3 separate regions of the Homo sapiens genome follow, and all the other regions are reported to be linked to region 3. Evidence: microRNA targets listed by miRTarBase, many of them from high-throughput screens and not tested one by one. Region 3 holds a microRNA gene; each other region holds the end of a gene's coding sequence. Distances are from middle to middle.

Evidence for each region. Region 3 holds the annotated microRNA hsa-miR-4803 (UAACAUAAUAGUGUGGAUUGA, at 1,847-1,867, shown strand). A microRNA usually pairs through its seed, bases 2 to 8, with sites in the 3' UTR of a target mRNA and lowers its output. Matches are read on the target gene's strand: a 7mer-m8 pairs with bases 2 to 8, a 7mer-A1 pairs with bases 2 to 7 and ends in A, and an 8mer does both.
Region 1: miRTarBase lists GPR151 as a target of hsa-miR-4803. Seed matches in the 3' UTR shown: 7mer-A1 at 1,667-1,673 and 7mer-m8 at 1,924-1,930.
Region 2: miRTarBase lists GALM as a target of hsa-miR-4803. Seed matches in the 3' UTR shown: 7mer-A1 at 2,242-2,248.

The regions. Positions count from the first base shown.
Region 1 is chr5:146,510,882-146,515,124 of GRCh38, reverse strand. GPR151 (G protein-coupled receptor 151) reads left to right here. Exons shown (of 1, transcript NM_194251.3): 1 at 1-1,981. The coding sequence ends at 271. It overlaps TCERG1 (transcription elongation regulator 1), which reads right to left. Exons shown (of 23, transcript NM_001382548.1): 23 at 3,164-4,243. Among named protein-coding and RNA genes, the nearest start is that of GPR151, 3.2 kb to the left of the region's middle.
Region 2 is chr2:38,732,713-38,736,955 of GRCh38, reverse strand. It overlaps GALM (galactose mutarotase), which reads right to left. Exons shown (of 7, transcript NM_138801.3): 7 at 2,191-3,468. The coding sequence ends at 3,391. It overlaps LOC124905993 (a long non-coding RNA gene), which reads left to right and starts at 3,406. Exons shown (of 3, transcript XR_007086292.1): 1 at 3,406-3,490.
Region 3 is chr5:72,167,630-72,171,872 of GRCh38, forward strand. It overlaps MIR4803 (microRNA 4803), which reads left to right and starts at 1,838; the gene lies at 1,838-1,911. All of the region lies in intron 2 of MAP1B (microtubule associated protein 1B), which reads left to right.

The DNA of each region.
Region 1 (4,243 bases), 74 Mb from region 3:
AACTGTCTCAGAGTCTCAGGAAACACCAGCTGGCAACTCAGAGGGTCTTCCTGACAAGGTTCCATCTCCAGAATCCCCAGCATCCATACCAGAAAAAGAGAAACCCAGCTCTCCCTCCTCTGGCAAAGGGAAAACTGAGAAGGCAGAGATTCCCATCCTTCCTGACGTAGAGCAGTTTTGGCATGAGAGGGACACAGTCCCTTCTGTACAGGACAATGACCCTATCCCCTGGGAACATGAAGATCAAGAGACAGGGGAAGGTGTTAAATAGATTTAAGTTTCAAAGCAAAACAAACTGTGATTATTGTATTTACTTGTACTGCTGCTTATCAATATTGCTGACTTTACAAACTGATATAATTATTACCATTAGGAATTATAAAAATATTTCACAATCTACACTTTCCAAATGTGCAATGTGGTAAGTAGAGAACCATGTTAGAAGTAATAATTGTTTCAGAATTAGAACTTGGCTTCCCAAACAATTTAAGTGTTGTGTAAAGATGTTGCTGTCAAAGTGATTAGACAGCCTGGCTATTCTGTCATTTGTTCACAGTGGTTTTACTGGGTACCCCCTAGGACCAGCCCTGTAGTGGACCGGCTGGAGCCTGCAGTAGAGGTTCTGTCAAAGCTGAGCCCCTTTACCTTCAGTTTCACCCAGGACCTGCTAGTCCTAATTTTACCTACTAAATTGTATTTCACATAACCAAAGCTCAAAATCTACTTTCACTTGAGATTTTTAACACATTAATGATAAATTTTAATGCGTTCTTCATTTACTTAATAAGTGTTAATTTACTTGATGAAAAGTCCGTATCATAATGTTCATGACTGAAGGTCAAAGAAAAAGAAACAGCACCTTATTCCAATTCTGGACTCATTTCAAGCCATGGCTGGTTCTGGCCAAGTTTAAATAAATTCAAACTTAAACTAAAGCCTGCTTCAGTGAACTTTTTAAAGCTACCTGAATGAGTCTTCAGTTTCTAAGTCTAAGAATTGTAGCAGCTTTCCAATGACATTCAGTAGTCTGATATGGGGGAAAAAATACTTAAAAAAATGTCCTCTCTTCACTTCCAAAATGTGGGAAAGTTATTTTTCTATAAGCAGAAATGTGTTCCTCCTAATATCTCCTTTCTCCCAAGATAAACCATGGTTAATGATATAGGTATAGATTACTCCTCAAATACAAATAGAAGATGGAGATGGTGATCTTTCTTGTTAATGGTACTAAACTTACCCTTACTCAGAACATTGAACTTGAACCCTACTCAACTTTTAAAATACTATAGGCTAAGTTATAAAAATAATCTAGCAACCTGAGAAAGAGATTAATATCAAAAAGAGAAAATTCAACAAACCAAGACAGAATTTGGTTAAGAATACAAAATAAAAAGCATAAGGGCAATGCAGAAAGCAGTAAAACTGTGTACCCAGACATACGGTAAAATCTGAGTAACAGGCAATAACCATTCATTTTATAGCAAGGTAAAACATACCCAATAAAACATGATTATGATATATTTCTGCCCCTTTTAAGTATAATGACATTCACCCATGATTCTTGATTACTTTGTTATGGAACTCGGGTATTTTCACTGAAAGTTTCCCTCAGAATAGAAATGCCTTTAGGGCAAACCAAGCCATGGAGAATCTGAAATATAAAGGATATGTTATGGAAAAAAAAAGATTTTGCTTTTTGTCTATGGGTTTCCGGATTCTTTGCTTTTTCATAAGTGGTCATAGTTTGCTTTTTAACACAGGAGGTAGGGCTGTATTCTTTTTACATCCTTCATTACAAATTTTATTTGAAGCTCATGTATTCAAATAAAGTAAAATTTAACCCAAGAATCCAAAATATTGTCTTGTGATATGGTAGTTATAAAAAGGATTATCATTGTCTGTGATTATTTGAATAAATAATTTTTATGTTCATTATATGTAGTAAATTTAGGATGTAAGCTTCCAGGGTTTGACACTTTAAACTTGTAAAGAAATAAAAATAATTACGCTTTACTTCCGATAGTTTTTGGAGATTTAAAGCTGTCTTTGTCTTGAATTATCATTCCAAAATCATTATTAGGAACAATGGAGCTTTATGGGGCTGTTTGACCTTAACACTGGAACAGGTCTCAAGGTGAACTGATTTTCAGAGTTTGCTAACAAGCACCAAATCAAGATGCAGACACTGGAACAAAGAGTAATTACAATGAACCTTTCATTAAGAACCTGATACACAAAGTTAAGTCCCGACTTGATCCCTTAAAAAATCTGCTTAGAGAAGTTTGATTTGTATCTTATCTGATCAAACCCAGATACTTTAAGACAAAAGTAGGAAATTAGAACAGATATCACCAAACTGTTTTCTTCTCACTTCTCTACTGTGAGAAACAACGTAGTAAGTGGGCAAACAATATTATGTGGAATTCAGAATAACAAAATAAGGCATTCTGGAAACTTTACCCTTGTGAGACAGTCGTATTTCTACATACTACATAATAGTTGTGCTCCTTTTGGCAAGCACTTCAATTTCATTCCTCACAGTACTTAAAAATCACTCAATGAACTTATAAAATGAACTTCAAAGAAAGAAAAAAAAGGAAACAGAAGGCGGCCAGGTGTGGCGGTTGACGCCTGTAATCCTAGCACTTTGGGTGGCCGAGGTGGGAGAATGGCTTGAGGCTAGGAGTTTGAGGCCAGCCTGGGCAACAGAGTGAAACCATTTCCAAAAAAATTTTAAAAAGAAAAAAAAAAAAGCCAGACATGGTAATGCATGCCTGCAGTCTCAGCTACTCAGAAGGATCACTGAAACCAGGAGTTCAAAGTTACAGTGAGCTATGATGGCACCACTGCACCCCAGCCTAGGAGACAGAGTAAGATCCTTTGTACGCATAAAAAGAAAAAACATATCCTGTTTATCAACTTTACAGCTGAAGACCTTAGTCTGATCAATGCCAGGTTCCTACATAAAGAGTTCACAAAATTTCCATGGCACTTAATAGATTTAAGCTATGAACTATATAACATGGATGTGAATGTGTGTGTCTGTGACTGTATGCACACAACATACAAATACAGATCTGTTGGTATTCCTTCTTTCTAGGATTTGTTACAATCATAGTCGGTATGAGATAATGGAAAATAAATTATTCTATTAACATATATATTTTGTTAAACATTTTATTTATGTGGCACTCTGAAACGAGCAACCTATGAAGGCATAAAATAAAAAGATTTTTTTTTAACTCGGGAGGTAAAGCTAGATATATCAATTAGGAACTGATTCATGGTGTGATGTACACGACATGTTGAAAGAATGCCAAAAAGGCGCAAACCATCATACATTAATACAAAGGACAAAAACAAAAAAAACCCCAGCATCTTCTTGCTATGAGGCAATAAGGCACTGCTAAGAGACTTGAGCACCAAAATGATTCTCTACAAATTCCTTCCTTTTTATACTGCAAATACTGCATTATTATATTCAAACCTTTAAAAACTAGGTAATACTTAAGATTTAGAGTCAACTTACTTTGTGGGAAATTCTATTTGCTGCTTTTAAAAACAGGTTAAAATAAGCTCTTAAAAATTAAGTAACAATAATCATATACAATACAGATATATAAAAAGGGTTGGTTTATTGTAGTTCAAATACATAAACTGAACATTCAAACATCTTAAAATTAAACTTTAGCAACAAAGTTTAACATTCAAACAGGAGTATAGTTTACAAGAAACACCCAGAAAGGTAATTTGTTGTCTAATCCAGAATATTGATAAAGATCACTTAATGGTGAATAAAATATGTTTAACCAGTGGTTCTATTCTGGCCAACATGTTAGTTATGACCGTGGTTCCATACCTGAGAAGAAATTACTACATAAATCTTCTCTTAGGCTAAACAACAAGACTCGGTCTATAATTCAGAGGGGATAATCAAAGCACGTAAGTGAACAAATAAAACTAATCTGATCTTTAGAGACAAAGGTAAAAGTATTGTCCATTATAATAATTGTAGCCTCTGGAAGATAAGAATTCAATTTTCAGTGTTTTCTCTTTTACCCGCTTTAAAAAAAAAAAATCAAAACAAAACAAACCCCAACTCGGGTTTTCTTGGAGTCTGTGGTATTTGCATCTGGCAAGTTCAAGCCACAAATGCTCTTACTTCTTGCATGTATTAACACTGCTAGGAAGAACGTCACCAAGTCACTGACTTCCACACCTCATAAAAGGATGAATTTTAGCT
Region 2 (4,243 bases), not on the chromosome of region 3:
GGGGCCTTCAGCGATTTTATCATAAAATCACCCAATTATGCTGACATGCTGTCACATGTCACAATCTATGTCTTATAAGCACATGGAAGGGCTTCTCAAGCAAAGTTATGTGTTTCATGAAAAAGGACAGATTGGTTGCTGCCACAAAAAGAGTTTCTCTAAATTTTTGCTTCCCTCAGATGCATGGTGTGACAAATGTAGCCTTTTTTTTTTTTAAGACAGAGTCTCGCTCTGTCGCCCAGGCTGGAGTGCAGTGGCGAGATCTCGGCTCACTCCAACCTCCACTTCCCTGGTTCAAGCAATTTCCCTCTCTCAGCCTCCTGAGTAGCTGGGATTACAGGTGCATGCCACCACGCCCAGCTAATTTTTTTGTATTATTAGTAGAGACGGTTGGCCAGACTGGTCTCAAACCAGGTTTCACCTGGTTGGCCAGACTGGTCTCAAACTCCTGACCTCAGGCAATCCACCCACCTTGGCCTCCCAAAGTGCTGGGATTACAGATGTGAGCCACAGCGCCTGGCCGCCTTTTTTACTTGCTTTTATAAACACCATTAATTTAAAGGCCAGTAACTTATTTCAGCTGCCCTACAGGCAATGAATATCCTTACTTGGACTACTGTAGACTTGGCTTCTTATAAAAACAATAATCTTTTTGGACAGAAGAAAACAAAGTATTTGGCTAATTAATTAATTAATTTGGCATTCTCAAACCTAGAGGCCATTACATTAAGAACTAGTTTGTAGTTGTTACATTTCTTTGTTTTGTCTCAGTGGATCCAGGGCTGGAATCGCCCCCATAGTGGCAGCAGGGGAGACCCCATCAGGGAGTGATCCAAACTATCTCGAGATAGGGCCGGCTGGGATTTCAAAGAAAGAAGCTCTAAGCGCCAGGGTGATCAATCCAAAGCATTTATTAGAGGAACTTCCTTACAGAGTGCTGCAGCAATGGTTGAGAGAGAAAAGGGGTGTTCTGCCCAGGTATATCAGCAGTGAGGGAGTTTCTATGACAGTTAAAGGAATTTGGCTCAGGGCCAGAGCCAGTTTCTTTTTTCTTTTTCTTTTTTTTTTTTTTTTTTTTTGAGACAGAGTCTTGCTGTCACCCAGGCTGGAGTGCAATGAGAGTCTTGCTGTGACCCAGGCTGGAGTGCAATGGCATGATTTTGGCTCACTGCAACCTCCGCCTCCTGGGCTTAAGCAATTCTCCTGCTTCAGCTTCCCGACTAACTGAGATTACAGGCACCCGCCACCATGCCCAGCTAATTTTTTTGTATTTTTTTTTTTTTTTTTAGTTGAGACGGGGTTTCACCATGTTGGCCAGGCTGGTCTTGAATGCCTGATCTCAGGTGATCCACCCGCCTCGGCCTCCCAAAGTGTTGGGATTACAGGCGTGAGCCACTGCGCCCGGCCCAGTGCCAGTTTCTTTTAGTGTTTTAGGGAACAACCTAGACAGATTTATCAGTGCCTGGGAATGTTCAAGGCCCGGTTTGGGTTCAAGCCTGCTAGGAAAAATCTGCAGCTGGCTAGGTGACAAAGGTCAAGGCACTCTGTGACTTTTGGTCAGGATACAGAAAGCAGGGGCAACTGGCAACTCTACACTTGTGAATAAGAAAATGTTCATTCTCTTCTTCTCTGGGATTTCCTAAATGATTGCTGGCACCTAGAGTATGAGAACCCTGCGTCGAACAATTTAATAATCAAATTGGTAGCTAGGTTGCAGTCAGCTTAATAGTTCACCTCTGAGGCCTCTTGGCTAATGTATATATTGGTAACTTTAATAAGAGTGGAGAGATCTGCAGGCAGCATCTTGCTCAAGTCACCAAAGTTAACCTCACCAGTGAGAAGACAACTGAGCATGTACCTCACCTGACTGGCTGCTGTGGGCAGCATCACACCTGACCTGAATCCCTTCACAGACCCAGCAGAGGGCTGTGTACAGAGCAGGTGCTCAGAAAAATCCATGCTGAAGTGAATTAAAAAATAAACAAGATCTTTGGTTTATTATCGGTTACAAAGAAAGAGGAGGTGTGGAAAGCTACTTCCACTGAGATAGCTTTCCTAACTGTTAGGTAGGAAAATGCCAGGGCTCCCACTGGAGGGCAAAGTAGAATCCAGAACACACCCATATTCTTGGTCCATTTCCCAAAGGTCCACGCCTGAGAGATTTCAAGCTGAGTAAAGGAACAAGTCTTCTGAAGATGCAGATTTTGGTTTTATTTCAATTCAGTACAGCATACACTAGTATAACATACTTTTTTTTTTTTTTTTCAAAATCACCAACCAAAACCCATCACTGATACTTTGATTGTCTAGGAAAGAAGGAGCCCCAGCCTTGTCACATACAATCTCTGTCCCTGGTGCAATGTCATCCTCACTGTGCTGTGAAAGGCAAGGCTCTCTCCTCACCCTAATAGCTCCTGTTTCCAGTGCTTGCCTGTCTTTCTTCCCAAGCGTTGGCCGGGCTGTGCTTTCTCAGTTAACCCAAAGGCTCTTGCAGGCCTTTTCCTCTCGGAAGTCCCCTCCCTCTCCCGAGAGAGAGAGCTGCTTTTTTTTCCTTTTTTTTTTTTTTTTTTTTGAGATCGAGTTTTGCTCTGTTGCCCAGTGCAGTGGCATGATCTCGGCTCACTGCAACCTCCACCTCCCAGGTTCAAGCGATTCTCCTGCTTCAGCCTCCCAAGTAGCTGGGACTACAGGTGCGTGCTACCACACCCAGCTAATTTTTTATGTAGAGACGGGGTTTCACCGTGTTAGCCAGGATGGTCTCGATCTCCTGACCTCGTGATCCGCCTGCCTCGGCCTTCCAAAGTGCTGGGATTACAGGCGTGAGCCACCGTGCCCGGCCTCAACTTTTTATTTATTAGCTTGTTGGTCTTCAACCTCTGTAAGCCTCAGTTTCCTCACTTATCAATCATCTACTGCTGTATAGAGACAGGTCCATCTCCTAGCATGCAGGGTGAGGCTAATGTGACATTTGAAAACTCCAGAGTGCTGCTGACAGTGGTTGGAGGTGAAGGAGGAGGAAATAAAAGCAATGTGAGAATAGCTTTAAAGAAAGGAAGGGCAAAAAGTTGAAAAGAAAGAGGCAGTGTGGAGAGATGGAGCCAACAGCAGCATGGGAGTCCCTGGCTAGGGTCAGGGCTTAGATGACGACATTGTTGGTTGGGTTCACTTGCCCTCTGAACTGCACAGGGAATCGAGCTGGTCATTAGACATGGCCTGGAGCCAGTCACTGGAAAAGGAAATCAATACCCAGACTGATTCTCAGAACAGCCACCATTTGTATGATTTTAATCCATAGAATCATTCTGAAAGCTTCTTAATCTTCACCTTTTTTCTGGACAGGAGACAGGTGGCTGAGCCTAGCCCTGGACTGGATCATATCTTCACACTTCCTTAAGCCACAGAAAACTTGAACCAGGTGGTGTGGTCATACTCCTCACCAGGCCTCAGCAGCACAGGAGGGAAGCGGGGCTGTGAAGGGGAAACAACACAGGTGATGCTTGACACCGCAGGCTGCAACATTAACCATTTGGGTGTGCTTCTGGACGGGCTTCTAGACCAGTGCTCTGTGGATGGCTGCCAGTGCGGGAACTGTTTATGATTGGTTCATAGTGAGATAAAGAACTTTAATCAGAGTGAAAAAAGCACACTTTGTTAAAGGAAGGCTTTCCTGATGAAGGGAAGCAGTGTGTTGATCTATAATCTGGTGTAAGGTGTAGGCTTTTTTTTTTTTTTTTTGAGATGGAGTCTTGCTCTGTTGCCCAGGCTGGAGTGCAGTGGGGCGATCTCAGCTCACTGCAAACCCCGCTTCCTGGGTTCAAGCGATTCTCCTGCCTCAGCCTCCAGAGTAGCTGGGATCACAGGCACCTGCCACCATGCCCAGATAATTTTTTTATTTTTACTAGAGACAGGGTTTTGTCATGTTGACCGGGCTGGTCTCGAACTCCTGACCTCAAGTGATACACCTGCCTCAGACTCTCAAAGTGCTGGGATTACAGGTGTGAGCCACCGCACCTGGCCCTTTTTTTTTTTTTTTTTTAAAGACAGGGTCTCATTCTGTTGCACAGGCTGGAGTGCAGTGGTGTGATCATGGCTCACTGCAGCCTTGACCTCCCAGGCTCAGGGATCCTCCCACCTCAGCCTCCCAAGTAGCTGGGGCCACAGGTGTGCACTACCACACCTGGCTAATTTTTCTAATAATCTGTAAAGATGGGGTCTCCCTGTGTTGCCCAGGTTAGCCTCAATC
Region 3 (4,243 bases):
TATTAAAGGAATGCTTTGTCTAATGAAGCAAGAGTGCACAGACATTTTATATTGAAAGAGAATGGACCAGAAATGAGAAATATATTTTACTTTGTCATTGGAGTCAAAAGAAGTATTGATAAGTAGACTTTCTTTCCCCCAGTAACCCTTCATTTTTTTTAAATAAAAAAGTAACATTCTTTAGAGCAGTTTTGTAGTTACGAAACAGGAACTTTTATAATGAATTTGATTAGATGTGACGGAAGGAAATGCAAGTATTTTTCAGAACGATGTAGATAACACATTAAGGCATCATCTTCTGTCATTTAAGAATTATGAGAATAAAGAGAACTGGAGTCGGGAATGTGGTTAGACTCTCCTCTGGAGGGATAGCTGACGCACGGAAAGCACTGCTCCTCCACTTGGCTCTTGCCCCTGTCCAGCTCCTGTCGCTTGGCCAAGGCCCTGAGCTGAGGAGGGCCTCAGGCTTGCTCACCTCCTGCCTTTCCAATCCTTAACTTTGAAGCCTTGCATTTTCCAGATATCTGAGTTTACACTGAGCAGTGGTGCCCTCGGCAACCTTAGGGTGCTCCATCTCACCTTCCAGCTTCTCCAGCAACAGCCTCTGCTCCAAAATAAATGAGGTGTTCAGTGTTGCTTTCTGGGCAGGAATCAGATGTTCTTTCTTTCAGTTAAACTCCAGAGCTCTGGCAGAGCTTGATTTGGTCCATTTTTCTCTAGGGCCGGCTTACCTGTTGGCATTTTTACAGAGACAAAATATGCTCCCAATTTATACTATTTTATTTACGAAAGAGCAAAGAGTAATACATTCTAAGAACTTTGATTAGCATACATATGGATCATTGCATATATTCCAAGTGTATATAAATACATAAAAAATACCCAATGGAGAATAATGCAAGACAGGAATGTAGAAAGTGATTTTATGCATGCTGCCTTTCTTAAGAGAACTTGTTACTTCTCATGGAAATTAAAATCTGGGGATTTGCTCAAGGGCAATTTTCCCCAAAGTCCCCAGATTATTTCCCTCCCTCCTTGGACTCATTTTAAACTAAAATTTCAGTCTTTTAAAAAGAAGATAGAAGAGGACAGAATTTATTTGACTACCTTGTTTGACTTGCTCTTTGTCATGGGTTTCAGACCTGTTTCTCAGGAGAGCTACGTCTGTTGGTTCAGAGTACATTTATCAATGCCTTGAAAATGCCCATTGGCCAGATTTGGTTGAATTGCCTCAGAAACAAATCTCTGTTTGTTAAGTAAACCATTAATTAAATATATGGCCCAGAACTTAATTCCTTTGGTTTACTACATCACATTTTCCTAAATAAGCAGATGTATTCTTTCAATTATAATATCCCAGAGGTCAACGGTACTCATCTTAAAACAAATAAAAAATAGGTTGTTAAGGTAAGAAATCAACCTTCAGCAAAAAATATGGTTTGGGGGCATACTGTGGCACCCCATTAATAGTGACCTTGTGAAGACCTTGTCGTTGAATATAAAATCAAAATGAAATCTAACGATGCCTCATTTTAATTCCTTAAGAGATCTTAAGGGGTGGCAGAATGACCACAGGCAAAATCCAATGCGCGTGTGAGAAAACCAAACACACAAACAACTCCTGACACTTTGGGGCAGTTTTTGGCCCTAATCACTTGAAAAGAGCTAGGCAATGTCTTCTTTTTAATTATTTATGCATGGCAGTGGGTTTCTTCTAATGATGGCCCAGGTGTATATTTTTCAGATCCTGAAGGTAGATCACCTGATTTGCTTACTTCTAAAGACAAAGTAAGCAAATCACACTTTGATTGTTTACTTTGCTTGTTAAATCCCTCTGAGTGGGATTTAACATAATAGTGTGGATTGAATCACACACACATTTCAACCCACACTATGATGTTAAATCCCATTCAGAAGTGGAGTGAGTGTTTGTGTGTAACTATGGGTATCTATATTTTTAGTTGTCCTTTTTTGCAAAAGATTGTCATCACCTAAATCCCTATAGGTGGAAGGCTCGGATCTAGGCTTTGTGAGATTTACATAGAAATTGCCACCTTCACAGGAAGTTCAATGAGAGGTACATGAAAGTATGTAAAAGCATTTTGTTAACTAGAGTCTTATAAGTTGGTTGGAGGCAATAGCTCATATAAATACTATGTACATCCTCTAATTGAGCTATATAGTATAGAGACTGTTAACTGCTATACCAGAATTTGGGGATAAGAGACAACTCTGGGAATTGAAGTGGACAGAGAGATACTCCCTGAGGAAATAAAAATATGAGCTGAACATGTAAGAAATGGATTAGATTTAAGTAGGTATGATGCCTTATTTTATGGCACAGTAAATTCTATCACCAAACAACACTCTTTATTTAAAACAACCTTCAAGCAAAGTATCCCACTAGGGCAAAAAATGAATGCAGTGACCAACTGGCATGAATATCTGATTTACTAAAAATTTAGATTCCTGTTAGTGGAAATTAAATGAACACATCAGCATTGTAAATTACCAGTCTATTTCATGTAAGCTTTAGTAGTATGGCTCTTTAAGTTGAATGCTATTAGGTGAAATGGAAAACTCAATGGCTAATTTAAAAGCCAAGGGCCTGCATCCTATCCGTCAAAGTATGATTCTCCATAGGCCTGAGTCAGCAGCAAGCTGGGTTTCACATCTCTTTATCTGCTCTAAAAACAATGGTATGAAGGGAAGCTTTTACAAGAAGGTCAGCTCTCTGTATGATGTTTCCAAGAGAGTACTCAATAGTTCGTGCAAGCATTTACCCTTTACTAAATGTTTTATTTAGCCTTTTAATAAATCTTTTACTGCTGAAATACAGGGTTTGGATTTGGTTGAAGGAGAAGTGGTGAAAGGTTTAGTTGGAGAAAGTTCTTTTATTAAATTTCTCCTCCTTCTGCCCACCGAGAGGAGCTGGGACTATCCCATACACAGTGGCTCAGTATCCCCTGTGGCAGAGCCTCTGAAGAGGTGATCAGAACAGTTAACCTGCCAAGACCTTGTTGCGTGGTCCTCTTTGATGTTTAATATAGCCAGACGCGGTTGTTCACGCCTGTAATCCCAGCACTCTGGGAGGCTGAGGTGGGTGGATCACCTGAGGTCAGGAGTTCGAGACCAGTGAAACCCTGTTTCTACTAAAAATACAAAAAATGATCCAGATGTGGTAGCAGGTCACTGTAATCCCAGCTAGTCGGGAGGCTGAGGCAGGAAAGTAGCTTGAACCCAGGAGGCAGAGGTTGCAGTAAGCCGAGATCGTGCCACTGCACTCCAGCCTGGGCAACAAGAGCAAAACTCCATCTCAAAAATAAAATAAAATAACATAAAATAATGTTTAATATATAGGGCTAGAATATCTATCCAAAGCTTTATGTTCATGTAGCTTATCAAGCCTTCAAAAGTGACACCCTTCTCTTGCTGCTGCGTGTCAGGACAACATAGAGTAGGAAAGGGTAAAGTGAAAGGGGGAAAAGACTGAAGTCTTCCCTGCTCAGAATAAGGAAAAAGGGTAAAGAGGAAAACATGAGCAAATATGGTGGCTTTTCGGGGGACATTTTTGAGATAAACATAGCAAAGGATAGTGCCTGAAGATGCAGTCGAGGTCTTGAAAGACCATCTGTGGGCCAAGAGTTTAAAGAAAAGGCATTTAACAGTGTAAGAAGGACAGCTGCAGTGGCTCACACTTGTAATCCCAGCACTTTGGGAGGCTGAGGTGGGAGGATCACTTGAGCCCAAGAGTTTGAGACCAGCCTGGGCAACATAGTGAGACCCCATCTCTACAAAAAACAGAAGAAATTAGCTGGGCATGGTGGCACACACCTGTAGTGTTAGCTACTTGGGGATGCTGAGTTGGGAGGATCACTTGAGCCCAGGAGGTCGAGGCTGCAGGGGGCCATGTTCATGCCACTGCACTCCAGCCTGGGTGATAGAGTGAGACCCTCCCTCAAAAAAAATTTTTTTTTTAAAGTGGAAGAAACGTGTTTGGGATTCAATCAAACCCAAATGGGAGAAGTTGAGAACTAGGCTTTAAATGAGACATCATTTTGGTTTCCCAGACAGGGCCTGTAACTAAGGATAAAGAACAGGAAAGTAGAATCAGGACTGTGCCCCTGGTGTGCCGAGAATCACCCTTCAGGTCTGGAAGAGGGAAGAACCAAGGTCACTGGGAACCGGGTGTGCTGTTCTGGGCAGCTAGGCATCCAGCCATGACTGAACAACACAGGCACCG